Homo sapiens: one gene and its partners. The protein of the gene in region 7 purifies or fractionates together with the protein of the main gene of each other region. This does not show direct contact. Each region holds a gene or a part of one and is shown on either strand. Other genes may lie near its edges. The genes, in order: PYM1, LETM1, HMGCS1, DCPH1, KIF2A, ETF1 and FGB.

What was found.
Region 1: the proteins of FGB (region 7) and PYM1 purify together in Homo sapiens (affinity purification with mass spectrometry; 2 studies listed by BioGRID and IntAct, with this or other methods). This does not show direct contact.
Region 2: the proteins of FGB (region 7) and LETM1 purify together in Homo sapiens (affinity purification with mass spectrometry; 2 studies listed by BioGRID and IntAct, with this or other methods). This does not show direct contact.
Region 3: the proteins of FGB (region 7) and HMGCS1 purify together in Homo sapiens (affinity purification with mass spectrometry; 2 studies listed by BioGRID and IntAct, with this or other methods). This does not show direct contact.
Region 4: the proteins of FGB (region 7) and DCPH1 purify together in Homo sapiens (affinity purification with mass spectrometry; 2 studies listed by BioGRID and IntAct, with this or other methods). This does not show direct contact.
Region 5: the proteins of FGB (region 7) and KIF2A purify together in Homo sapiens (affinity purification with mass spectrometry; 2 studies listed by BioGRID and IntAct, with this or other methods). This does not show direct contact.
Region 6: the proteins of FGB (region 7) and ETF1 purify together in Homo sapiens (affinity purification with mass spectrometry; 2 studies listed by BioGRID and IntAct, with this or other methods). This does not show direct contact.

What each region holds. Positions count from the first base shown.
Region 1 is NC_000012.12:55,925,095-55,929,241, reverse strand, and holds the start of PYM1 (partner of Y14 and mago), read left to right. Parts: upstream 1-1,347; 5' UTR 1,348-1,480; coding exon 1,481-1,517; intron 1,518-1,622; exon of another isoform or gene 1,623-1,926; intron 1,927-2,116; exon of another isoform or gene 2,117-2,132; coding exon of another isoform or gene 2,133-2,166; intron 2,167-4,147. UniProt on the Homo sapiens protein: Key regulator of the exon junction complex (EJC), a multiprotein complex that associates immediately upstream of the exon-exon junction on mRNAs and serves as a positional landmark for the intron exon structure of genes and directs post-transcriptional processes in the cytoplasm such as mRNA export, nonsense-mediated mRNA decay (NMD) or translation.
Region 2 is NC_000004.12:1,846,157-1,849,656, forward strand, and holds part of LETM1 (mitochondrial proton/calcium exchanger protein precursor), read right to left. Parts: intron 3,054-3,500; coding exon 2,993-3,053; intron 1-2,992. UniProt on the Homo sapiens protein: Plays an important role in maintenance of mitochondrial morphology and in mediating either calcium or potassium/proton antiport. Mediates proton-dependent calcium efflux from mitochondrion.
Region 3 is NC_000005.10:43,289,413-43,292,912, reverse strand, and holds part of HMGCS1 (hydroxymethylglutaryl-CoA synthase, cytoplasmic), read left to right. Parts: coding exon 1-65; intron 66-275; coding exon 276-439; intron 440-1,692; coding exon 1,693-1,782; 3' UTR 1,783-3,500. UniProt on the Homo sapiens protein: Catalyzes the condensation of acetyl-CoA with acetoacetyl-CoA to form HMG-CoA, which is converted by HMG-CoA reductase (HMGCR) into mevalonate, a precursor for cholesterol synthesis.
Region 4 is NC_000006.12:151,458,966-151,462,465, reverse strand, and holds part of DCPH1 (damage-control phosphatase ARMT1), read right to left. Parts: intron 1-3,500. UniProt on the Homo sapiens protein: Metal-dependent phosphatase that shows phosphatase activity against several substrates, including fructose-1-phosphate and fructose-6-phosphate.
Region 5 is NC_000005.10:62,361,706-62,365,205, reverse strand, and holds part of KIF2A (kinesin-like protein KIF2A), read right to left. Parts: intron 2,757-3,500; coding exon 2,665-2,756; intron 2,029-2,664; coding exon 1,886-2,028; intron 1,512-1,885; coding exon 1,307-1,511; intron 1-1,306. UniProt on the Homo sapiens protein: Plus end-directed microtubule-dependent motor required for normal brain development. May regulate microtubule dynamics during axonal growth. Required for normal progression through mitosis. Required for normal congress of chromosomes at the metaphase plate.
Region 6 is NC_000005.10:138,512,237-138,515,736, reverse strand, and holds part of ETF1 (eukaryotic peptide chain release factor subunit 1), read left to right. Parts: intron 1-2,030; coding exon 2,031-2,169; intron 2,170-2,782; coding exon 2,783-2,973; intron 2,974-3,500. UniProt on the Homo sapiens protein: Component of the eRF1-eRF3-GTP ternary complex, a ternary complex that mediates translation termination in response to the termination codons. The eRF1-eRF3-GTP complex binds to a stop codon in the ribosomal A-site.
Region 7 is NC_000004.12:154,569,511-154,573,010, forward strand, and holds the end of FGB (fibrinogen beta chain isoform 1 preproprotein), read left to right. Parts: intron 1-3; coding exon 4-289; intron 290-908; coding exon 909-1,140; 3' UTR 1,141-3,297; downstream 3,298-3,500. UniProt on the Homo sapiens protein: Cleaved by the protease thrombin to yield monomers which, together with fibrinogen alpha (FGA) and fibrinogen gamma (FGG), polymerize to form an insoluble fibrin matrix. Fibrin has a major function in hemostasis as one of the primary components of blood clots.

The DNA of each region.
Region 1 (4,147 bases), on a different chromosome or scaffold from region 7:
CAATCGGTGAAAAGAGAGCAAGGGTTTAAGACCACAGTGTCACAACACTTGCAATAACAGTGTATCGTATGCAAATACTTTTTATTTATTTATTTTGAGACTGAGTCTTGCTCTATAATACAAGCTGGAGTGCAGTGGCACGATCTTGGCTCACTGCAACCTCCACCTCCCAGGTTCATTCCTCAGCCTCCCGAGTAGCTGGGATTACAGGCACTCGCCACCACACCCGGCTAATTTTTGTATTTTTAGTAGAGATGGGATTTCACCATGTTGGCCATGGCTGGTCTCGAACTCCTGACCTCAAGTGATCTGCCCACCTGGGCCTCCCAAAGTGCTGGGATTACAGGCATGAGACACCGCACCCGGCCTGGAAATACTTTTTAAATGAGCCCCACCCCCAGACATTCTGAATTGGCCTCTAGTGGAAGTCACAGACATGGAGGATGGGAAGGAAGGCAAGCTGCGGCCCCCAGAAAACTTCTGAGGCCTAATTTGTCTTATAAAGGTCCTAGTCAGCCATTGCTCAGTTTTTTAGTTTTTTTTTTTTTTTTTTTTTTTTTTTTTTGAGACGGGGTCCCACTCTGTCGTCCAAGCTGGAGTGCAGTGGAGCGATCTTGGCTCACTGCAACCTCCGCCTCCCAGATTCAAGAAATTCTCTGCCTCAGCCTCCCGAGTAGCTGAGATTACAGGCACCCGCCACCACGCCCGGCTAATTTTTTTGTATTTTTAGTAGAGACGGGGTTTCGCCATCTTGGCCAGGTTGGTCTTGAACTCCGGACCTCGTGATCCACCCGCCTTGGCCTCCCAAAGTGCTGGGATTACAGGCGTGAGCAACCGCGCCTGGGTTTTGTTTTGTTTTTTAAATGGGACATGCTGCCTAGTGTTGGAGGTAGTCACCAATACTTACCTCCTGCCTCCTCCCTGGTTCCAGGGGTACTGCTGGACATTAAACTAAGCCAAAGTGGGGATATAAGCAGGAAGGTAAAAGGGTTGATAAGGAAAAAGCTATATGAGGGTGGAGGAGGGCAGAGTTGACACCTGAGGAGAGGAACCTGCAGCCGGGCTCCTCTCAGGCTGTAGGGGAAACAAGTTTAACAGGACTTAGCCCTGAAGGAACAACAGTTGCTGAAATGGGCGGCGGAGGGAGACCATATGGGTTCGTCTGCAGAATAGGGAGGTACGGCGCAGGGCAGGACTACAAATGGAGTGACACTACGGGACCGGATTATTGGCGAGTTGCCCCGCTTTAGATCCTCAGCGGTTGGACGAGTTTAATTAGAATACTAAGTAGGTCCGCCCAGAAGCTTTCACCCTGCCCTCTGACCCTAGGGCCCAGCCCGAGGAGGCACTCAGGGTTAGGAGGTCTGGGCGAGAAGCAACTAGGGCCCTCATCACTTCGCCGCCGAATCCCCGGCGCCGCCCAGCGGGGCAGAGCCAGGCCAGGGCCGCCCGCCCAACCTGGTCCGCTGCCTCTTCGGCCATGGAAGCTGCCGGCAGCCCTGCGGCTACGGAGACAGGTGACCGACCCGCGGCGCCCTCCGCCTTGCACGCCCCTCCCGCGGGTCTCTGGTGGTTGAGTGGGTTGGCCGACAGCAATCGGCACACGAATTCGACCTCCCCACCTTCTTAGGGTTAGATAGGGTCTCCAACCGTCCCTAGAAACACTTGTGCGCCCCAGTGCGTTCCTGGAGTTTGTCTGCTCCACGTCACCAAGCCGCTCTGAGATCTGGGTGCAGGCCAGAGCCTGGATATTCTTCCTTTCTTCATTTATAAGGCCCCCTTTTTGGGTGCAGGTGGGCCTTGCGCCCTTTTCCCTCGCAGGTCCTGGACGTACGAGGAGTTCCTGGGGATGAGAGGGACTGTGCCTCGGAACTTCTCTTGGCTCCCTGAGGACTGTTTTACAGGCAGCAAGCGCTCAGTAATGGTATCGGTGGCAGTAAAAAGCCCACGGCTTTATTTTATTAACTATTTCAGCTTCTCCACTCTTCCTCCTCCTCCACCTCCGCCCATGAAATGGTGCACTCTCCCTTTAAGACTAAGATGGTGGCTTGCTACGATCGGGACTCCACTTCCGGTGGGGAGGGGGGCGGGACCCCAGCCCGCTCACGCCGGAAGTGGTTTGCGTTTTCAAGATGGCGACTCCCTATGTTACTGACGAGACCGGCGGTGAGTGCGGGAGGCGCGGAGCCGCTTCTCTCCGGGCTCTCGGGGCAGGGGTTCGGACTTGGAAAGGGGTCTGTGCCCCGCCCATCCCGGGGCCCCTCCTTTGCCCCGCCCCCCGGACCGCCTTCCCCATTCATTCTCTCCTACGGGGTGTCTCCTGCGCCCCCTTCTGGTCTCGTGTTTGGGGTCTCTGCTTCCGGTCACCCAAACCCTGGGGTCCTTCAGTGCTGGTCCCTGCTTCAGGACCCTCACGGGCCCTTAGCTTTTCTCCAGCAGTTGGACCACTCATATCTCTTTTAGGTTCTTCAGGCTTGGGGGCTTCTACACTCTCATTTCCCTCCAGTTCCTGCCCTCCTTCTTTTCCCCTCCCCCATCTCAGCTATACTTGGTTTCTGCCCTACCCCAGTCCCGTTTTCATTATTTTTCTCGAAGCTTTATTTGCTGAAGACCTCCTCGTTTCTACATAGTACCTTTTCCTCTCCCGTATCTTCATTTGTTGGGTCACTGAGGTTTAGAGGTGTGAAGGGAAGAGGACCCTAATACAACTTTCAGCTTGAGTTTTCTCCCTGATGGAGCCACCCTTCGCTACCTTCTCCCGTGATGGTGATAGAAATTGAGGGGTCTAAGGTGGGAAAAGGCAAACAGGAAAGTATCTAGTGGCTTTTCTCCGAAGCCCTTTGACAAGTGAATAAAACCCACTATTCCTTCTGGCTAGAGAAGAATTTGCAGCCTGGCTGGCCGAGATGCTGAAGTGTCTGCTGTGTATGTAAGGTGTATGTGTTGGAAACGGAGAATCACAGCTTTTATCATGGTTTTGTCCCTTCCTAATGGCCTCATCTTTAGGAAAATATGCATAGTAGTAATAGCTACTCAATGATGATCAAATAATATATGTAAAAGCAATTTATAAAATACTGTGCAAGTGCAAAGTGTTTCTGTTTTTGTAGCCCTCATATGTGTAGTCTGTAGTCTGTAGAAGCAACAGTGTGCCTGTGCCTTGGTACACACGGTGTTTTAAAATGTGCCATTTTGCTTCTTGCTCTGCTGCTTTCCATGTTCCTTACACCTCAGCCCACCTATTTTATGGTATCTGATGACAACCCAGGTTGCTGCTACTTCTCCCCAACCTCACAATTTAAAGTGGTACTACCTCTTTCCTTCTGTTCTCTACCCAGTAGCTCCTTCATGAATTACCAACTTTTAATGTGTGTTTTGAAAATACTACTTATCCAGTATACTTCTCTTTACTCTTAATCATTTTCTTTACCCTGACTCCGTGAAAATCCAGGTATCACATCTTACCTTACCTTGTCACTAAAAGCTGTTTTCTGTTTTCCGTGACTATGTGGAAGAGAAAAAGGAATAAACTGCTTTTTTGTTTTCCTTTACTATGTCCAGATCATTGATCTACCACTGTCACTCTAATCCTCATGGAAGGTATTGCCATGCAATTATAGCAGTTTCTGTAAAACTTTAGTGTCATCATTTACTGCCCACAGGGACCCAGACCTATTGCATCATATTTTTTTCTCTCCTTTTTTTCTTGCTATCATTTTCAGTGTCTCCAGCACCATTGGAATATTCTGATTTCATAGTTCCTCAGCATGAGACGGTCGACTTTCCTTTGTATTTTCAAACCAGTTGCACATCAGAATCACTACAACCTGGATCTCATCTAGGACACCGCTTTTTCTTCAGCTGCTCCCCATCACTTTAGCCTCCTTACCAGTCACCTATTTCACTATCTTAAACCCACAGGATCAGCTTTTTGTCCTCAAGTTCTCTGGTTCTTGACCTTCCCATTTCATTGAATCTGTCAGTACCTTATGGCCTTTGGTGCTGCCCAGCTAGACCTCTGTGACCAGCCACTTTGATAATATCCTCTTGCTTTCTTTATTCATTTTGATTTTCTATACTAAGCAGGCACTTCTGTTGTCTCTAATGATGGGTATGATTAGAGATGTTTTCTTGGCTTCCGCTTCTA
Region 2 (3,500 bases), about 150 Mb from region 7:
TCATCCATAATTCTTGATAAGTAGACAAGTCCATCAAAACAGCTGTACAGTCCTCATTGTTTAAATTTTTAAGTAGATGTTCAAAATTGGGAACTTTAAAAAAAGTTACGTGAATAAAGTACAGCTTTTATGTTTTGTTGTTAGCCCAGGCTGGAGTACAGTGGCGCCATCTTGGCTCACTGCAACTGCCACCTCCCGGGTCCCGGTTCAAGCAATTCTCCTGCCTCAGCCTCCTGAGTAGCTGGGATTACAAGAACATACCACCATGCCCAGCTGATTTTTGTATTTTTATTAGAGATGGGGTTTCACCATGTTGGCTAGGCTGGTCTTGAACTCTTGACCTCGTGATCTTCCCGACTCAGCCTCCAAAAGTGTTGGGATTACAGGTGTGAGCCACCGTGCCCGGCCAGCATTTATGTTTTAGTATGAAATTTAAATGCTAAAAAGTTGCTTGACAAATTCAACATCCATTCCTAATAAAAAGAGTAACAGACAGAACAAAGATTACTTAAACCCAAAAGCTAACATCATATGTCACAAACACTAGATCCTGTATTTTCTGCTATTGTGATACCGCATGACTGACTACAGCTGTTCTGACACAGATCTGGCTACTGAGCTAAGAAATGAAACCACCTCAGAAGCAGAAGCCCTGGGAAAGAAGAGGCAGATGATTACTATGTACTAAGATCACAGCCATAAACTAAACCTGGGCTGCTACAAGAGCTGAACAAATAACAGGAAAGGGGCCAGATACAAGAAAATTGTACAACTTAGCAACTTACGGGACAGCAATGATCACTTAGAAAAGATAATGAAAAGAATTAATGAAAATAATAAACATCTGGGAATTATCTAAAATGCAATGCATGTGGCCTATACAAAGAAAACAGGCCGGGTGCAGTGGCTCACACCTGTAATCCCAGCACTTTGGGAGGCCAAAGGCAGGAGGACTGCTTGAGTCCAGGAGTTCAAGAGCAGCCTGGACAACATAGTGAGAACCTGTCTCTACAAAAAATACCAAAAAGAAAAAAATTTAGCAAGGCATGTTGGTAATGCCTGTAGTCCCAGCTACTCAGGAGGCTAAGGTGGGAGAATGGCTTGAGCCTGGGAGATCAAAGCTGCAGTGAGCCATGATTGCACCACTGCACTCTAGCCTGGGCAATGAACAGAATGAGATCCTGTCTCAAAAAAAAAAAAAAAAGTAATATTCCTTCCCAACTGGTTTAATGACACTTCAGATACAATCCCAAAAAGACTGTTTTAGAAGTAAAATGGTTCAGCTCATCTAGAAGGAAGGTCCAGACTGACGAGGTTTGGGGGAACTGGTCCCCAGGGAGGAACAACTGCTGGAGAACTCACTAAAGAAAATAACGGGAGCAGCTAGGCGCAGTGGCTCACACCTGTAATCCCAGCACTTTGGGAGGCCGAGGTAGGTGGATCATCTGAGGTCAGGAGTTTGAGATGAGCCTGGCTAATGTGGTGAAAATTTTGTACTTTTGTACTAAAAATGCAAAAATTAGCTGGGTGTGGTGGCGGCGTCTCTAATCCCAGCTACTAGGGAGGCTGAGGCAGGAGAATCGCTTGAACCCGGGAGGCAGAGGTTGCAGTGAGCCGAGATTGCACCACTGCACTCTAGCCTAGGTGACAAGAACAAAACTCGGTCTCAAAAAAAAAAAAAAAAAAAAAAAATTAGCTGGGTGTGGTGTGCGCGCCTGTAATCCCAGCTACTTGGGAGGCTGAGGCAGATAACTGCTTGAACCCGGGAGGTGGAGATTGCAGTGGGCAGAGATCACGCCACTGCATTCCAGCTTGGTGACAGCGCGAGACTCTGTCTCAAAAAAAATAAAAATAAAAAAAAAAAAGAAAATGCAACCTTAAGGAAAAAGACATAAGAAAACCAATTTCTTTTCTCATCCAAAGTTATAATAAAACGTTATTCGTGGACCTTAAAGTTGCAGTTTCTGCCAGGCATGGTGGCTCACACCTATAATCCCAGCACTTTGGGAGGCTAAGGCAGGCAGATCACGGGAGGTCAGGAGTTCAAGACCAGCCTGGCCAACATGGTGAAACCCCGTCTCTAATAAAAATACAAAAATTAGCCAGGTGCGGCCGGACGCGGTGGCTCATGCCTGTAATCCCAGCACTTTGGGAGGCCATGGCGGGCGGATCACGAGGTCAGGAGATTGAGACCATCCTGGCTAACACGGTGAAACCCCATCTCTACTAAAAATACAAAAAATTAGCCGGGCGTGGTGGCGGGCGCCTGTAGTTCCAGCTACTTGGGAGGCTGAGGCAGGAGGATGGCATGAACCCGGGAGGTGGATCTTGCAGTGAGCTGATATTGCGCCACTGCACTCCAGCCTGGGTGACAGAGCGAGACTCCGTCTCAAAAAAAAAAAAAAAAAAATTAGCCAGGCGCAGTGAGGCATGCCTGCAATCCCAGCTACTCGGGAGGTTGAAGCAGGAGAATCACTTGAACCTGGGAGGCGGAGGTTGCAGTGAGCCAAGCATGTGCCACTGCACTCCAGTCTGGGTGACAGAGCAAGGCTCTGTCTCAAAAAAAAAAAAAAAAAAAAAGAAAAAAAAAAAGTCGCAGTTTCCAAGAACCTACAGACATTAAATGAGACTTGCTGTACATCAAAATACTGACACTGGGCACTTTGAGGGCACAGTTGCCAGTGCCCACTCCAACTGGGAGTCCAACAATTAAATTCCATTTAATTCCTGTTAGGGGACAGGAAGCCTTCTGTCCCCAGCTCTCCAAGTGCAACTGGGCACTGAGGTTAGGAATGTTTCTATACTGTCTATAGATTCACTGAGGCATGTGACAATCATTTTCAAAATGGAAAGATAAAGGTTTAAAAGAAACAAAGAACAGGAAAGTAGGATACACTGTTTCCCTCAAAAATCAAGAGTCACTCGTGACTCTCCACCATTTTCAAACCCTGTTTTCAAACAGACAGGTGCAGAGTGATACTGATTTACTCACAGGCAGTTCCTCAACCCCAGGGTGCTGGCACAGCTGAGATGAGCAGGATCCCCTGGACTACCTGTAACAGGAACAGGGGAAAATAAATGAGTAGTAAATCAGGGATTTATACTGATACCTTTTTTTGTTGTTGGTTTTTGGAGTTTCGCTCTTGCGCCCAGGCTAGAGTGCAATGGCGTGATCTCGGCTCACTGCAACCTCCACCTCCTGGGTTTAATTGATTCTCCTGCCTCAGCCTCCTGAGTAGCTGGAATTACAGGTGCCCACCACCATGCCCAGCTAATTTTTTTTTTTTAGTAGAGACAGGGTTTCATTCACCATGTTGGCCAGGCTGGTCTCAAACTGCCGACCTCAGGTGATCCGCCCGCCTTGGCCTCCCAAAGTGCTGGGATTACAGGCATGAGCCACCGTGCTCAGCCTTTTGTTCATTTTGATTTATTTGACTTTGCCCAGGCTGGAATGCAGTGGTACAGTCACGGCTCCCTGCAGCCTTGAACTCCTGGGCTCA
Region 3 (3,500 bases), on a different chromosome or scaffold from region 7:
AACTGGTGTGGCACCAGATGTCTTCGCTGAAAACATGAAGCTCAGAGAGGACACCCATCATTTGGGTAAAAATATTAAATGTTCTTTAAGTTAACCCATTTGGAGGGCTGATATCATTAAGGATGCTACATATACGATAAGGATATCAAGACTTTACTCAGTACTAATCTGATGTCAGTGAAAATTATTGGGATATATGAAACTTATCTTTAGCTTTATTACCAGATGAATTGTATATCATAACTAATTGTAGATATTCTCTCCCTTTCCTTTAGTCAACTATATTCCCCAGGGTTCAATAGATTCACTCTTTGAAGGAACGTGGTACTTAGTTAGGGTGGATGAAAAGCACAGAAGAACTTACGCTCGGCGTCCCACTCCAAATGATGACACTTTGGATGAAGGAGTAGGACTTGTGCATTCAAACATAGCAACTGAGGTAAATAAAAGAGTTCCCATCTCCATATCTTAGGGTTTAGGAGACCTAACTGGGATTTAGCAACATAAATAAATGTCAGTAAAGAAGAGTAAGGGCTCTGGGAGTAGATTCTAGCTGTACTATTTCCAATTGTATAAAGTGCTTTGCATTTGAATTATTAATATTTTAAGAATATACAGTAAAGGCCGGGTGCGGTGGCTCACGCCTGTAATCCCAGCACTTTGGGAGACTGAGGCAGGCAGATCACGAGGTCAGGAGATCAAGACCATCCTGTCCAACATGGTGAAACCCTGTCTCTACTAAAAATACAAAAATTAGTTGGGCTTGGTGGCACGTGCCTGTAATTCCAGCTACTCAGGAGGCTGAGTCAGGAGAATGGCTTGAACCAGGGAGTCAGAGGTTGCAGTAAGCTGAGATCACACCACTGCACTCCAGCCTGGCGACAGAGCAAGATTCCATCTCAAAAAAAAAAAAAAAAAAAAAAAAGAATATACAGTAAATACTAGGTTTTATTAATGATACCAGGATTTAAAGGAAGACTGATATAGAGAGAAGGTTCATTTGTGGTGTGTGTCTTTGTGAGAGATGGAGTAGAGGGACAAGGATCCTTTCACATCTCATCCCAGATCATGGTCAAAATCTGTCCTCAAATTGTCAAGAAGTAACAATCATAGCTATGATTTGAATTCCTGTTACCTGCTAGGCACTTTACTTACGTTTTCTTATTTAATCCTTACAACAACCTCCTTGAAGTTTATAAATGATACTGTCCTCCCTTTAGAGATGAGCCTCCAAGAAGTTACATTACTTGCCCAGGATTATAGGTAGTAAGTATTAAAGCCAGGTTATAAACTAAGGACTTTATAACCTTGAAACTACTTATTTATCTGCTTACTACAAGTTTGGTAAATGGATAGTCTTGCTTTTTGCTATTATACAAATTAGGTAGCAAGTCAAACCGCCACTGTTTGAGTTGCAAATACAAGACGTAACAAGTAAAATACTGTTACGTGGTGGGTCTCTGTGGCAGGCTTCCTCTCCCCCCCATATGGATAATTGTATACTAAATTCACCATAAGGTGAAAAATGGATATTGAGTTCCCTTCATGAAAAGTTATATAAAATATATATTTAGCATAAACTTCTCCAGAGTTGTCCTTTATTAAGTTTCTTTACAGAAACTTTAATTGGTGCCATGATTCTTGTGGGGGAAAGAATCATAAGAGCCATCAACTTTTTTCCTTTCATTTTAGCATATTCCAAGCCCTGCCAAGAAAGTACCAAGACTCCCTGCCACAGCAGCAGAACCTGAAGCAGCTGTCATTAGTAATGGGGAACATTAAGATACTCTGTGAGGTGCAAGACTTCAGGGTGGGGTGGGCATGGGGTGGGGGTATGGGAACAGTTGGAGGAATGGGATATCTGGGGATAATTTTAAAGGATTACATGTTATGTAAATTTTTATGTGACTGACATGGAGCCTGGATGACTATCGTGTACTTGGGAAAGTCTCTTTGCTCTATTTGCTGACATGCTTCCTGTTGTGGTCTGGCCAATGCCAAATGTACTCGAATGATGTTAAGGGCTCTGTAAAACTTCATACCTCTTTGGCCATTTGTATGCATGATGTTTGGTTTTTAAACATGGTATAATGAATTGTGTACTTCTGTCAGAAGAAAGCAGAGGTACTAATCTCCAATTAAAAAATTTTTTAACATGTAAGAATTTTGTACTTTGAACAACAAGATTACAGAAAGTACCTGTGGTTTTTGGAAAACATTTCTAGCTTGGGGAATGTGACAACATTCCCCAGTGTGGTAAAATTGGGGTAAAATGTGGTAAAATGTGATACGCACAAACCCTTTGAAAATAGCAAAACAAACATGCCCTTTTTCTAAAATTGATAAATCCTAAAGAGGAAGAAAAGAGCTGGGACAATAAAACACTGGCTCTGGAATCTGGAATGTTAAGTCCAGGCCAGCAGTGACAAAAGTTATTGTAATGACCTCTGAACAGAGAAACACTGCCATTGAAGAGGCTTCTGGTATAGAAAACATGGTACATTCAGGAGCTGTGAATATAGCTCTAGGTGTGCTCCTGAATCAGTTCATGGTAGATTATGCTGAACAACAGTGAGATGTTATTGGAGGTGTGGATGAGGGAGTTTGTTGTTGCAGTCCTTCTTTGCACCTTATTTTAAAGAATAAATGAAACATTTTTCTGGTTACTTTTTTAAAAATTTAAAATGGAAGGGAAGAATAGGGGCAGGGCATTATTAGGCTATTTCTGATGCTTCAGTGTTATAAATTCAACATAGAGGCTGACAACCTAAATTCATGGTGTAACACAGCTCTTTTCCTTTTCCTTTTTTTTTTTTTTTTGGTATCTGTTCAATGAAAATAAGGTATGACCCAAGTTTTTACCTAGTCTGACTAGAAGTATTCCACTTCAAGGTCTGAAGTAGGACTTTTACCTTAAAAAACAACAACAAACAAAACTATCACACAGGATAGATAAGAAGATTGGTTAAACAGTTTTGTGTAGATCTTTTTGGTGCTGAACTATGACATGAGCCTTATAGATTGTAAAATAGGGATAGTTGGAACTAATGTACAGAACTAAATTTTTTAAACTTTATTTGCTGTTAAATTCTGTGAAGTTTCAGTTATCTAAAATAAATATACACAAATATGAAATATAATGTTTCAGATTGCAAGGTAATATGTAATAGTAGTGTTTGTAAGATACTCTTGTCTAATATTAACTAGTAGTATTTTGATTTGTACAGTCATAATTTGTTAAAATGACTTCATTTAACATTCACTGATGTAGATTAATAATGTAAGTTCTGATTTAAAGAATGGTGGCAAAATGGTGCATGTAATACTTTTGCAAGTGTTGGGGAGATCGGTATGTTTTGAAAAGAGTAATTTAACTTTTGGGTGCCAGGAAATGGGTTTTCTCAAAGTCCATTGCCGGCAATGGGCAGGCCTGCAAATACTGGCACAGAGCATTAATCATACACCTTATTAACGGTGAGGTGAATAACTTTGAAATAAAG
Region 4 (3,500 bases), on a different chromosome or scaffold from region 7:
TGAGTGAAAGAAGCCAGACACAAAACTATACACTGTATCATTTCATTTCAGTAAAGTTAAAAAACAGGCAAAACTAACACAGGTCAGAACAATGGTTATCCTTGAGGAGTAATGAAGGCAGTGACTGGAAAGGGACTCAAAGTGGACTTTTGGGGTCTGTAAGGTTCCGTCTCTTGATCTGGGCACTGGGTACACAAGTATGTTCTTGAACACATAAGACATGCACATTTTTCTATATGTATATTACACTTTATTAAAAAGTTTTTCTAAAAATCTAATATTTTCTCTGTACTTTCATCTTTCAATATCTGAAGTGTATTTACCTAATATGTTTAAATTTCACATATGGCTAAAACTTTGAATCTTAATTTAGACTGGCAGACTATTGCATGTTTCAGTGTAAAATGGTAAATCAATATAAACATGTCTTTTATAAAAGCTGGTCAGTCTGGAGTTGCCATTGACCTAGGATAGGGATCCCCCATAGAAGAACCTAAAAATTAGACATTTAAGAATTACTTCAGTGCTGGCTCCATTGTAAGATGGCTCTTTATCTGCCACAGAAACCGCTTTGGGAAGAGTTCTACATCCGTGATTGTGCAACATTCTAGTTTCTTGAACTTAAAGATGCATGTTCCCTCTATCCCATTTAACAATCTGTTCGCTGAACCAGTGGATATCATCACTCCCTGAGCTTCCGAAAGAAAAACTGATACCCAGGCCCCACCCCAGATAAATTAAGCAATTTGTATTTATTCCAACACAATAATCTAAAACTATGTGGTGTTTTTTTTGAGACGGAGTTTCGCTCTTGTCGCCCAGGCTGGAGTACAACGGCACAATCTCGGCTCACTGCAACCTCCACCTCCTGGGTTCAAGTGATTCTCCTGCCTCAGCCTCCTGAGTAGCTGGGATTACAGGTGCCCATTACCATGCCTGACTAATTTTTGTATTTTTAGTAGAGACAGGGTTTCACCATGTTGGCCAGGCTGATCTCACACTCCTGACCTCGGGAGATCCACCTGCCTCAGGCTCCCAAAGTGCTGAGATCACAGGCGTAAGCCACTGTGCCTGGCCTAAAAATACGCATTTTTGAAGCCACCTTCCTTTTCCCCAACTGGGTCATAAATGTGCAGCCAGGTTTGTGAAAATCTGCTCTAGGTATTTTTAGTCTCTGAACCTGATCAACCTCTAAAATCAAACTCAGAAACAGCATTCCTCTTGCCTTAAACACACAAACTCCACCAACCCCACTCAAGATGCCACCCAGTCTTTCAACACTTTGGCAGCTTTGGCTCCTACCACAGATATTTTCCAAAATTAGGAAACCATCACCCCGAATTTCAGACTACTCTCAGTCCTTGACAGGCATCTAAATCTACTATTTGGGAAGAATGGCTGAATAAGGACACTAATCTGATTCACACAGACCAGGCTCAAATCCTGGTTCCACCACCTACTAGCCATGTCACCTTGGGCATGTTAGAAATCTCTCTGAGCCCAATCACCTAAACTGTTAAAATGGAAACCATAACAACGCCTACATTTCACTGGGTTGCACAGTCACTAGAACATTGCTAGTTACTGACAGCTCCTTACATCTTCTGCTGTTCTGCTGGGGTGCCTTCTCCATGCCAAGCAGTGCACCGGAGTTTTTTTTGTTGTTTTTTTGTTTTTTTTTTGAGACAGAGTCTTGCTCTTTCACCCAGGCTGGAGTGCAGTGGTGTGATTTCGGCTCACTGCAACCTCCGCCTCCTGGGTTCAAGTGATTCTCCTGCCTCAGCCTCCTGAGTAGCTGGGACTACAGGTGCGCACCACCGCGCCCAGCTAATTTTTGTATTTTTAGTAGAGACGGGGTTTCAGCATGTTGGCCAGGATGGTCTCGACCTCTTGACCTTTTGATCTGCCTGCCTCGGCCTCCCAAAGTGCTGGGATTACAGGTGTGAGCCACCGCACCCGGCCTGCACCAGAGTTTTAATAGTGTATTTTGCTTTTAGATCAGAAGTTCTAAAACCTACCTATCAGAAAAAACAACAAATTGTGATATGAAAAAAAAATATATAGGCTGGGCGTGGTGGCTCATGCCTGTAATCCCAGCACTTTGGGAGGACGAGGAGGGCAGATCACCTGAGGTCAGGAGTTCGAGGTCAGGAGTTCAAGGCCAGCCTGGCCAACATAACGAAACCCCATCTCTACAAAAAATACAAAAACAAAAAAAGTTAGCCAGGCATGGTGGGAGGTGCCTGTAATCCCAGCTACTCGGGAGGCTGAGGCAAGAGAACTGCTTGAACCCGGAAGGCAGAGGTTGTAGTAAGCCAAGATCGCGCCACTGTACTCCAGCCTGGGCGACAGAGCGAGACTCCATCTTAAACAAACAAACAACAACAAGAACAACAACAACAACAAAATATATACGTGTGTGTGTAAGATTAAGACAAAAAAGCTAATGAACAGATTTTAAAGTTCCATATGTTTCCCAAAATAATTTTATTTTACAATTAGTGCTGACTTGATAGGTCACTTTAAATTGTCCTATGCTATGTTTAGGAACAGATACCAAAGGATTCCTCTTAACAAACCTGTATTTTTGGAACCTGTGCTTATTAAGGATAATCCAATCATCCCCATTAACTTTTCTTTGGCACTATAAATAACAGTTTTTTGTTTTTTGGTTTTTTTAAACAGTCTCGCTCTGTCGCCCAGGCTGGAGTGCGGTGGTGTAATCTTGGCTACTGGAACCTCCGCCTCCCAGGTTCAAGTGATTCTCATGCCTCAGCCTCCGGGGTAGCTGGGACAACAGGCATGTGCCACCACACCTGGGTAATTATATATTTTTTGTAGAGACGGGGTTTCGCCACGCTCACCAGGCTGGTCTCAAATTCCTGACCTCGAGTGATCCACCTGCCTTAGCCTCCCAAAGTGTTGGGATTCCAGGCATGAGCCACCACGCCTGGTCTAAAAACTAGTTCTCTATCAGATGTTTTCCTAGGAAAAATTAAATAATATAAACAAGCCTAGAAAAAGTTACTTTGAAACATGTGTACTTTTAAAATCTTTTTCTAAACTAGCCTTTTTAAAAAAAGATGAAAGATTAAGACTATAATACAATAGTATGATTCACTGTTCTCATGACTCCTTAAACCAAGTAAGTTGTAACGTTTATTATCTATTTCAATAAACAAAACATATGCTTACTTTGTCCCATCCTTATTTATATAAATGTAACTATTTCAAATTTACATTTTTTACTCAATAAGCAAAACTTCTTTTATTCTAGAAGTCTTTGTTGGAATCTTTAATTAATTCACGCTTTATTTATCTATTTTATTGAGACAGAGTTTCACTCCGGTGCTCAGGCTGCAGTGCAGTGGTGCAATTTTGGCACACTGCAACCTCTGCCTCCCAGGTTCAAGCAATTCCCATTCCTCAGCCTCCCAGGTACCTGGGATTACAGGCCCGTGCCACCATGCCTCGCTAATTTTTTTATTTTTAGTAGAGAC
Region 5 (3,500 bases), on a different chromosome or scaffold from region 7:
TCTTATAAAGGATAATCTTAATTAACATATTTTAAAAGGTCTCTTACTACAACTTGAACATTTAAGGGTCTGATCAGTTTTGAAAATTCTACTAACAGTTTTATTTTTTTTTTGAGACAAAGTCTCGCTCTGTCACCCAGGCTGGGGTGTGGTGGCGCAATCTTGGCTCACTACAACCTTTGTCTCCAGGCTTCAGGCGATTCTCCTACCCCAGCCTCCCAAGTAGCTGGGATAACAGGCGCCTGCTACCACGACTGGCTGTTTTTTATTTTTAGTAGAGATGGGGTTTCACCATGCTGACCAGGCTGGTATCGAACTCCTGACCTCAGGGGATCCACCCGCCTCGGCCTCCCAAAGTGCTGGGATTACAGACGTGAGCCACTGCGCCTGGCCAACAGTTTTAAAGCATAGTGTAGATGTTCCCATAAATGCTAATTCAAGAAAATAAAAAATGACAGCAAAAAAACCTACTTTATTCTTCCAACAGATATTTCTGGAAACTATGACTAGTGTTTGAAAGTGACAGGCAGTAGGATAACTGTAAAAAGTTAATTTCTTAACATGGCACTCCAAAAGAAAAAAACACAGAATGCCTTATTTTAGTCTTTCCAACCTTTGGTGTTCTACTCAAGGAAAAGATGTAATAACCTGGCCTAACATTTTGAAAGCCATTCCACATTTTTCTGAGAAACTGTTTCTTAGCTCAATTCAGTGGTTCGTTGCCCTCCTCCTAGAAAATATGACTAATTAAGACCCTCTGGGCCGGGCGCGGTGGCTCACGCCTGTAATCCCAGCACTTTGGAAGGCTGAGGTGGGTAGATCACGAGGTCAGAAGTTCAAGACCAGCCTAGCCAACATGGTGAAACCCCATATCTACTAAAAATACAAAAATTAGCTGGGTGTGGTGGTGCGTGCCTGTAATCCCAGCTCCTGGAGAGGCTGAGGCAGGAGAATGGCTTGAACCCAGGAGGTGGAGGTTGCGGTGAGCCGAGATTGTGTCACTGCACTCCAGCCTGGGCGAAAGAGCAAGACACAGTCTCAAAAAAAAAAAAAACCTCTGGAGTTTACCTATGTAGCCCCAGAACTGACCTACTAACTCACATATCCTTTATCCCATCTAAAAAGAATAAAGAATGTGTGCAAGGAAAAAATCTGGGTATAATAAAATCACACTATACATTACAAGCATCTGAATTTTGAAAACCTCTTTTTATTAGGTAAAACAAGTACTACTATTTTGCAACTGAGTAAAGAAAATTAAAGTCAAAAGTAAAAGACCTTTCATGATAAAATACATTTTATTTACCTTGAGTGCTAAAAGGCTTTTATTAATTTCAGCACCTTCAAGCCTAGTTTGCCTGTCCGCACTGGAAGTATCAGCTCCTCTTTCATTTCCAGCCAAATCAATGAGAGAAAATTTGCCATGTAGTTTTCCTTTCCTTCTAAGAATAATCTGAAACACTGCATGGCTCCGAGATGAATGTGCATTTGCAGATGTTTGACCGGATGTTCTACAATGTGATTAAGGACATCTTGATACATTAAAAACTTCAATTTACATGTTCAAACCACATTATTTTCATTAAAAACAACAGCAGCAAAAACATCGATTTAGCTAGTTTTCATCTTTTAAATACAGATGAGACACTGAGTTATAACACTTAAATAGAACCAGATTCATACAATTTAATCCGGCATATTTCTAATATATTTGTAATGTAGTATCAATATAATAATTGTCACTCACATTTACATGTAACACAAGTTTTTATGAACAATGATTTTTACTTCCAAGATGTATTGATAGATAACATCCTCATTTTGTTATACTGTACCCAAAGTTTCTAAAACTGATGTTTCCTTTCTTAATCAAAATGAGATTTACCTGCAACTGTTGCCTATGTCAATGAGTTTCAGTACATCTTCAACACATTTGACCTCCCGTTCCTGTAATCCCACCACTTGAACCTGCTGTTTTCCATCTTCTAGAACTCTTAATTTTGTTTTCCTGTTTAGCAAGTCAAACACCTATGAAAAACCATATTCAAATTAGAAAACTAGCTTTAAAGTAAAAAACAGGCTAGGTGCAATGGCTCACGCCTGTAATCCCAGCATTTTGGGAGGCTGAGGCAGGAGGATGGCTTGAGCTCAGGAGTTCAAAACCAGCCTGGGCAACATAGTGAGACCTTGTCTCTGCTAAAAATAAAACAAATTAGCTGGGCATGGTGGTGCATGCCTATAGTCGCAGCTACTAGGAAAGCTGAGGCGGGAAGCTCACTTGAGCTCAGGAGATTGAAGCTACAGTTAGCTGTGATCATGCCACTGCACTCCAGCATGGGTGACACAGCGAGATCCTGTGGCAATTAAAATATCAGTTCTATAAAAATGAGTCACCCAGAGTTTAAGAATTATTTCAGAGATTAAAATAATAATTGGAATAAGAATTCTCAACACTGAAGTTGAAAAGTTTCAAAGGACTTTTTAAAAAAATCTCATAACATAAATTCTAATATAAAAGTTCTAAATACACATAAATTATGGTGGTAAACGCTGCACAACAATGTGAATATATTTAATGCCACTGAACTTAAAAATGGTTAAAATGGCAAATGTTATGTTATATATATATTTTAAAAAATTAAAATTAAAAAAGTTCCCACTTACCTTTCCACTATAAATTTCAAAGAAGGTTGCATATACTTGAAGTTCTAGCTTCTTATAGTTTGGCTTCTTTAGCATTAAAAAGACATCTCGAGCTGTCAAAAATTTCATATACAGAAAATTGAGATCCAACAAATATTTTTAAAAAGCAACTCAAATTTTCTATTTCTAGAGGAATCAGTTACTCTTTACCTAGGATAACAGTATCAATAATAAAAATGAGAAAGTGAATATTAATTTTACAAAAAATAGTATTAATAGAAGCTATTCTCTTTCATATGCCATAAAAGGGTGCTACTTTTATTTATATATATTAATATTTATATTTATAAATAGCATAAAATTATAGGTGGTCATAATGAGGTTATTCTTATACCATAGCTAGTAGCTTTTTACAGTTCAGAAATTCAACAATTGAGACTCATCTCCAACAATGTGCTAGAATGCACTGACAAATATAATCAAGATTTCTGCCCCCTCAAAATCAATCTTACAGTTCTTTTTTTTTTTTTTGAGATGGGGTCTTGGTCTGTTGCCCAGGCTGAAGTGTAGTGGCATGATCTTGGCTCACTGCAACCTCTGCTTCCTGGGTTCAAATGATCAAACAATTCTGCCTCAGCCTCCTGAGTAGCTGGGATTACAGGCGCCCGCCACCACGCCTGGCTAAGTTTTTTTTTGTATTTTTAGTAGAGATGGAGTTTCACCATGTTGGCCAGGCTGGTCTCGAACTCCTGACCTCAAGTGATCCACCCACCTTGGCCTCCCAAAGTGCAGGGATTACAGGCATGAACCACCACACCCAGCCTACAGTTCTTGTCTTCTTAAAAAAAAAAAAAATT
Region 6 (3,500 bases), on a different chromosome or scaffold from region 7:
CAGTGCCAGGTACCCATGTTGTCTGGCTTTTGCTCACTTACTGAGTTAGCCTTGTTGGCTTTTTTCCAAACCTTAACTCCTTTTCTAAGATACTGTTTAATCTTGCTAACTTTGTACATTTTAGCTTTAACTGAGAGGGTTATATCCTGTTTATCAGGGTAATTATATATTCTAATAAGGGATATGCCTATTCCCTGATAAGCAGATTTATTAAAAACTTCAATCTACCTAACGGGTCATTTTGATAAGGCTATATTATTAACGTGCAATATTCATATTCATGTCTTTTTTCTTTTTCTTTTTCTTTTTTCTGAGATTGAGTTTTGCTCTGTTGCCCAGGCTGGAGTGCAATGGCACGATCTCGGCTCCTTGCAACTTCCACCTCCCGAATTCAAGTGATTGTCCTGCCTCAGCCTCCTGAGTAGCTGGGATTACAAGTGTGCACCACCACGCCCAACTAATTTTTGTATTTTTAGTAGATGAGATTTCACCATGTTGGCTAGGCTGGTCTGAAACTCCTGACCTCGAGTGATCCACCCACCTTGGCCTCTCAAAGTGCCATTGCAGGCATGAGCCACCACGCCCGGCCACAATATTCATGTCTTAATGCCAACTATCTAGCATGGTTTGTTAAAGATGGATTCTTAGTTGATCCATCTGCTTTCTAGTCAATTATTGAAGGGGCTATTTTCTTAAAATGGAATGGTAAGGCCAGGTGTTGTGGCTCACACCTATGTAATCCCAGCACTTTGGGAGGCCAAAGAGGAGGATCAGTTTATAAAAATAAAATGGAATGGGTAACAATTTCTTACTTCCAAAGAGATTGTCCCCTGGCAATTAGAGATCAACTAAGTGTGTAGTATTCCGATTCCACTGTGAGAACTCTTATCTATGTATGTCCCAGGACTGTTTCAATATTTTCTCTTTGGGAAGGCATAAAGGGATATAAAGTTAACATAGAAGGAAGGTTTTCCTCATAAAACTCAGAATCATTAGCTGCAATACCTTTAAAGACATGCTGGCTCATGCCTGTAACCCCGGCACTTTGGGAGGCTAAGGCAGAAGGATCATTTGAGTCCAAGACTTCGAGGCTGCAGTGAGCTATGATGGCTACTGCACTCCAGCCTGGCCAGCAAAGTGAGACCCTGTCTCAAAAAAAAAAAAAAAAGGAACAAGTTAAAGTTTTTTTGTTTTTTGAGACAAGGTCTCTGGATCACCCAGGCTGGAGTACACTGGCACAATCTTGGCTCACTGCAACCTACACCTCCCAGACTAAAGCCTTTCCAAGTAGCTGGTAGGGACTACAGGCACGTGTCACCACAGCCACCTAATTTTTGTATTTTTTTGTAGAGACAGTGTTTCGCTATGTTGCCCAGGCCAGTCTCAAACTCCTGAGCTCAAGCCATCTGCCTGCCACAGCCTCCCATAGTGCTGGGATTACATGTGTGAGCCATCATACCCAGCTTAGAACTCTATATTATAAAACTGAAACTGTATCCATTGAGCAATAATTCCTTGTTCCCCCTTTTTTCCAGCCCCTGGCAACCACCATTTGACTTTTTGTCTCTGATTTTGATTACTCCAGGAACCTCATATAAGTGGAGTCATACAGTATTTGTCCTTTTTTGACAGGGTTATTTCACTTAGCATGTATTCAAGTTTCATCCCTGTTGTAGTGTGTTTCAAAATTTTCTTCCTTTTTGAGATTGAGTAGTATTAACTGCTGTATGTAATATTGCTATAAACATGGGCATACAGATATCTTTCTGGTTTTATATTTACATGCCCATGTCAAATGTGTTGAAAAGCTTCACATAGATATCATTCGTTATTTCCTTATTGGGTTCAAATTTGTCCATAAGAGTTACATGTTTATAACTGAAGTCTATAAATTATTCCGTAGAAGGTTTTCCCACAGTGCTAATAGCATGGTGAGTGGAGTGAAAGGGCTTGTATATATCCTTTCAGAGTTTTTTTGACCTTAGCAAAGCTTTGGGATTCACCGTGTGGTACTTGTGTTTGCTTTTCAGGCTCTTACAGCACTACTTTCAGATGATAGCAAGTTTGGATTCATTGTAATAGATGGTAGTGGTGCACTTTTTGGCACACTCCAAGGAAACACAAGAGAAGTCCTGCACAAATTCACTGTGGATCTCCCAAAGAAACACGGTAATACAGGAGGAGAACATGAACCCACTTACTTTGTGTCTAGCAATAAGAAAACAGTATGGTGGGCCGGGTGCGGTGGCTCACGCCTGTAATCCCAGCACTTTGGGAGGCCGAGCCGGGTGGATCACGAAGTCAGAAGTTCGAGACCAGCCCGGCCCTGTCTCTACTAAAAATACAAAAATGTGACGGGCGCCTGTAATCCCAGCTACTTGTGAGGCTGAGGCAGGAGAATTGCTTGAACCCGGGAGACGGAGGTTGCATTGAGCCAAGATTGCGCCACTGCACTCCAGTCTGGGCGACAGAGTGAGACTCTGTCTCAAAAAAGAGAGAGAGAGAAAACAGTATGATGTGAGGGGAGTGAATCCAGATGATGGGGAGAGAAGCCTCCTGTAATGACTGGTGCCTCATTGGTACTTACAGCTCCTCTCTTGACATAGACTTAGTAGTCGCTCTCTGAAAACAAGTAGCAGTTTATGCTGAACGTTTAGTTAAGGGAATGGTGATTTTTCTTTGTCCTTTTCTTAGATGATGACATGATTATTTTATTTTTAATTTGAAGACATCTTGTAGTTCTTAATAATTGCCTTTTTCTCTTGCTACTTTTGTGTCAAAGGTAGAGGAGGTCAGTCAGCCTTGCGTTTTGCCCGTTTAAGAATGGAAAAGCGACATAACTATGTTCGGAAAGTAGCAGAGACTGCTGTGCAGCTGTTTATTTCTGGGGACAAAGTGAATGTGGCTGGTCTAGTTTTAGCTGGATCCGCTGACTTTAAAACTGAACTAAGTCAATCTGATATGTTTGATCAGGTAAGTAAGAAGTAGATGCTTTATTATGTAAGACCCTAGGTAGGAGTAGGTGAGTCCTCTGTGTGAGCACTGGAACAGACACATCTTTTTAAAATTCCTTGGGTTAAAAACTTGCCTCTGAGTTAAACAGCAGGTTTACAGATGTTTATCAGGAAACATTCCCCTGTGCTTTTCTGAACCCCTTCTCTTCTGAAATCAACCATTTTTAGGTGGGCTTCTTATGGATCCTGTGGAGGTTCCTTGTTTAGTTGGGTTGTCAGAATTGGCTGTAGAATGGAGTTTGATTTCAAAGAAACTAAAACCTGTTCCTTATTTTCTTTTTCTGATTTATTCTTGGAGATACATAGCAGCAAAGCTCTCAGCAGTATGACAGCTGATTCAGCCTAAAGCATTTAAAGCACATTTTATAACATGGGCTCAGCCATAATACACTTTCAAGATCTGGAGGAAGTAGCCTTATGGTAGAAGGTCCACCAAAGAAATTGCCTTTAAAAAAAAAAAAAAATATATATATATATATATATATA
Region 7 (3,500 bases):
TAGGTGAATATTGGCTTGGAAATGATAAAATTAGCCAGCTTACCAGGATGGGACCCACAGAACTTTTGATAGAAATGGAGGACTGGAAAGGAGACAAAGTAAAGGCTCACTATGGAGGATTCACTGTACAGAATGAAGCCAACAAATACCAGATCTCAGTGAACAAATACAGAGGAACAGCCGGTAATGCCCTCATGGATGGAGCATCTCAGCTGATGGGAGAAAACAGGACCATGACCATTCACAACGGCATGTTCTTCAGCACGTATGACAGAGACAATGACGGCTGGTATGTGTGGCACTCTTTGCTCCTGCTTTAAAAATCACACTAATATCATTACTCAGAATCATTAACAATATTTTTAATAGCTACCACTTCCTGGGCACTTACTGTCAGCCACTGTCCTAAGCTCTTTATGCATCACTCGAAAGCATTTCAACTATAAGGTAGACATTCTTATTCTCATTTTACAGATGAGATTTAGAGAGATTACGTGATTTGTCCAATGTCACACAACTACCCAGAGATAAAACTAGAATTTGAGCACAGTTACTTTCTGAATAATGAGCATTTAGATAAATACCTATATCTCTATATTCTAAAGTGTGTGTGAAAACTTTCATTTTCATTTCCAGGGTTCTCTGATACTAAGGGTTGTAAAAGCTATTATTCCAGTATAAAGTAACAAACACAGTCCCTAGATGGATTGGCCACAAAGGCCCAGTTATCTCTCTTTCTTGCTATAGGGCACAGGAGGTCTTTGGTGTATTAGTGTGACTCTATGTATAGCACCCAAAGGAAAGACTACTGTGCACACGAGTGTAGCAGTCTTTTATGGGTAATCTGCAAAACGTAACTTGACCACCGTAGTTCTGTTTCTAATAACGCCAAACACATTTTCTTTCAGGTTAACATCAGATCCCAGAAAACAGTGTTCTAAAGAAGACGGTGGTGGATGGTGGTATAATAGATGTCATGCAGCCAATCCAAACGGCAGATACTACTGGGGTGGACAGTACACCTGGGACATGGCAAAGCATGGCACAGATGATGGTGTAGTATGGATGAATTGGAAGGGGTCATGGTACTCAATGAGGAAGATGAGTATGAAGATCAGGCCCTTCTTCCCACAGCAATAGTCCCCAATACGTAGATTTTTGCTCTTCTGTATGTGACAACATTTTTGTACATTATGTTATTGGAATTTTCTTTCATACATTATATTCCTCTAAAACTCTCAAGCAGACGTGAGTGTGACTTTTTGAAAAAAGTATAGGATAAATTACATTAAAATAGCACATGATTTTCTTTTGTTTTCTTCATTTCTCTTGCTCACCAAGAAGTAACAAAAGTATAGTTTTGACAGAGTTGGTGTTCATAATTTCAGTTCTAGTTGATTGCGAGAATTTTCAAATAAGGAAGAGGGGTCTTTTATCCTTGTCGTAGGAAAACCATGACGGAAAGGAAAAACTGATGTTTAAAAGTCCACTTTTAAAACTATATTTATTTATGTAGGATCTGTCAAAGAAAACTTCCAAAAAGATTTATTAATTAAACCAGACTCTGTTGCAATAAGTTAATGTTTTCTTGTTTTGTAATCCACACATTCAATGAGTTAGGCTTTGCACTTGTAAGGAAGGAGAAGCGTTCACAACCTCAAATAGCTAATAAACCGGTCTTGAATATTTGAAGATTTAAAATCTGACTCTAGGACGGGCACGGTGGCTCACGACTATAATCCCAACACTTTGGGAGGCTGAGGCGGGCGGTCACAAGGTCAGGAGTTCAAGACCAGCCTGACCAATATGGTGAAACCCCATCTCTACTAAAAATACAAAAATTAGCCAGGCGTGGTGGCAGGTGCCTGTAGTCCCAGCTACCTGTGAGGTGGAGATTGCATTGAGCCAAGATCTCAACACTGCACTCCAGCCTGGGCAACAGCGTGAGACTCCACCTCAAAAAAAAAAAAAAAAGAATCTGACTATATACCATGGAAAAGCCACCACTCTGCCACTTAAATAAACATCAGGATCAGAGATTCCAAGAGGACAATCTGCATCAAGTCTTCACCAAGTGTTTTTTAAGCGAAATAATGAAATAGGGAGCAGAATATGCCTGTTGCCCATAGAAACGAGGTCTATTCTTGTCCTCAATTAGGCTTTTTTTTCTTCATAGTTACACCAGAACTAAAGTAAAAGTGGTTTTTCTGTTCTTTCTACTTCTCCCCATGAAATGGGCATATCATCTCAACACTTCACTCCAAGTCGCCACGGGCAACCTTATGACCCTAGGTCCTCCACCCCTAATGTATCATCATTGCCACCCATTTTTATGGTACTTATTGTTCTTAAGCTTATCCTCTTAATCTTTTCATGTAAGCAAAGCTCATTAATTTCTGTCTTGGAAATGCTACTACTCTCTTTAATTACTCACCAAATCCAACTTTAACTTTTGACCTGGTTTCTCTGCCACAAGTTCTGTCCCACTGGAGCCCATACTCACCTACCGCTTTGCCATCACATTTAACAGAAAACTCTTATCAACTTACTTCCTGCTTAACATTAGCTCCTTCCTATCTATATCCAAATTTCTTAAATTCAAATTTTTTAGCTGGAGTAAAAATGGTCCCAGTACCATTTCCTGTTCCCTTCACTATAACCTACATTTTTGTCACATTAAGTTTTTCCCCATTCCAGGACAGGTCAGGCCCTTTAAAAATTTCAACAGCTTTATTGAGATATAATTGATATAATTTAAAAAATCCTGCACATGTGTCATGCTGGAGCCCTATTGATTCCAACAGGGATGGCGCCTTGTCCAAGAAGAGACCCAGAGCCAGTGAATGGGACATAGGGTTTATTTAGGACTTAAATACAGATGTGGTCCAGTGGCAGTGGGCTGGACAGGACCGCTACTATTTGTAAAGAGTATGTAGTTTATATAACATTTCTACTTAGCACTCTCCACTTAGCAACCTCCATTTAACCCAAAATAAAAGGCCTTGGTTCCTTGCACATCCTGAGTTCCAACGGACAGGCAGGGAGTTCAAGTGTCCTTCACAGATAAGAAGTGAATCTCTCTGGGTTGGCCATTCCCGGATTCCTTAGCTTAGACTCTGAACACATATTCTTCTTAGACCATACAGTCATTCTCAGGGTATGCTTGAGTTAATGCTGTCGGATGCATCTGTCATACAAAGTGTTTAACATATACGATTTCATGATTTTGGAAATATGCATACACCCATGATATCACTGGCACAGTCAAGATATTAAATATATCCATCACCTCCAAAAGTTTCCTTGTGTTCATTTATTTTAGTTTTTCATGGTAAGAACATTTAATATGAAATATTATCAACAAATTTTTAAGTGCACAATACTGTATTATTAATTTTAGGCATTATGTTGTACAGTAGATCTCTAGAACATATTCATCTACTAAAAATGAAATTTTATCTCCATTTCCCCCTACCTCCCATCCCCTGGCAACTACCATT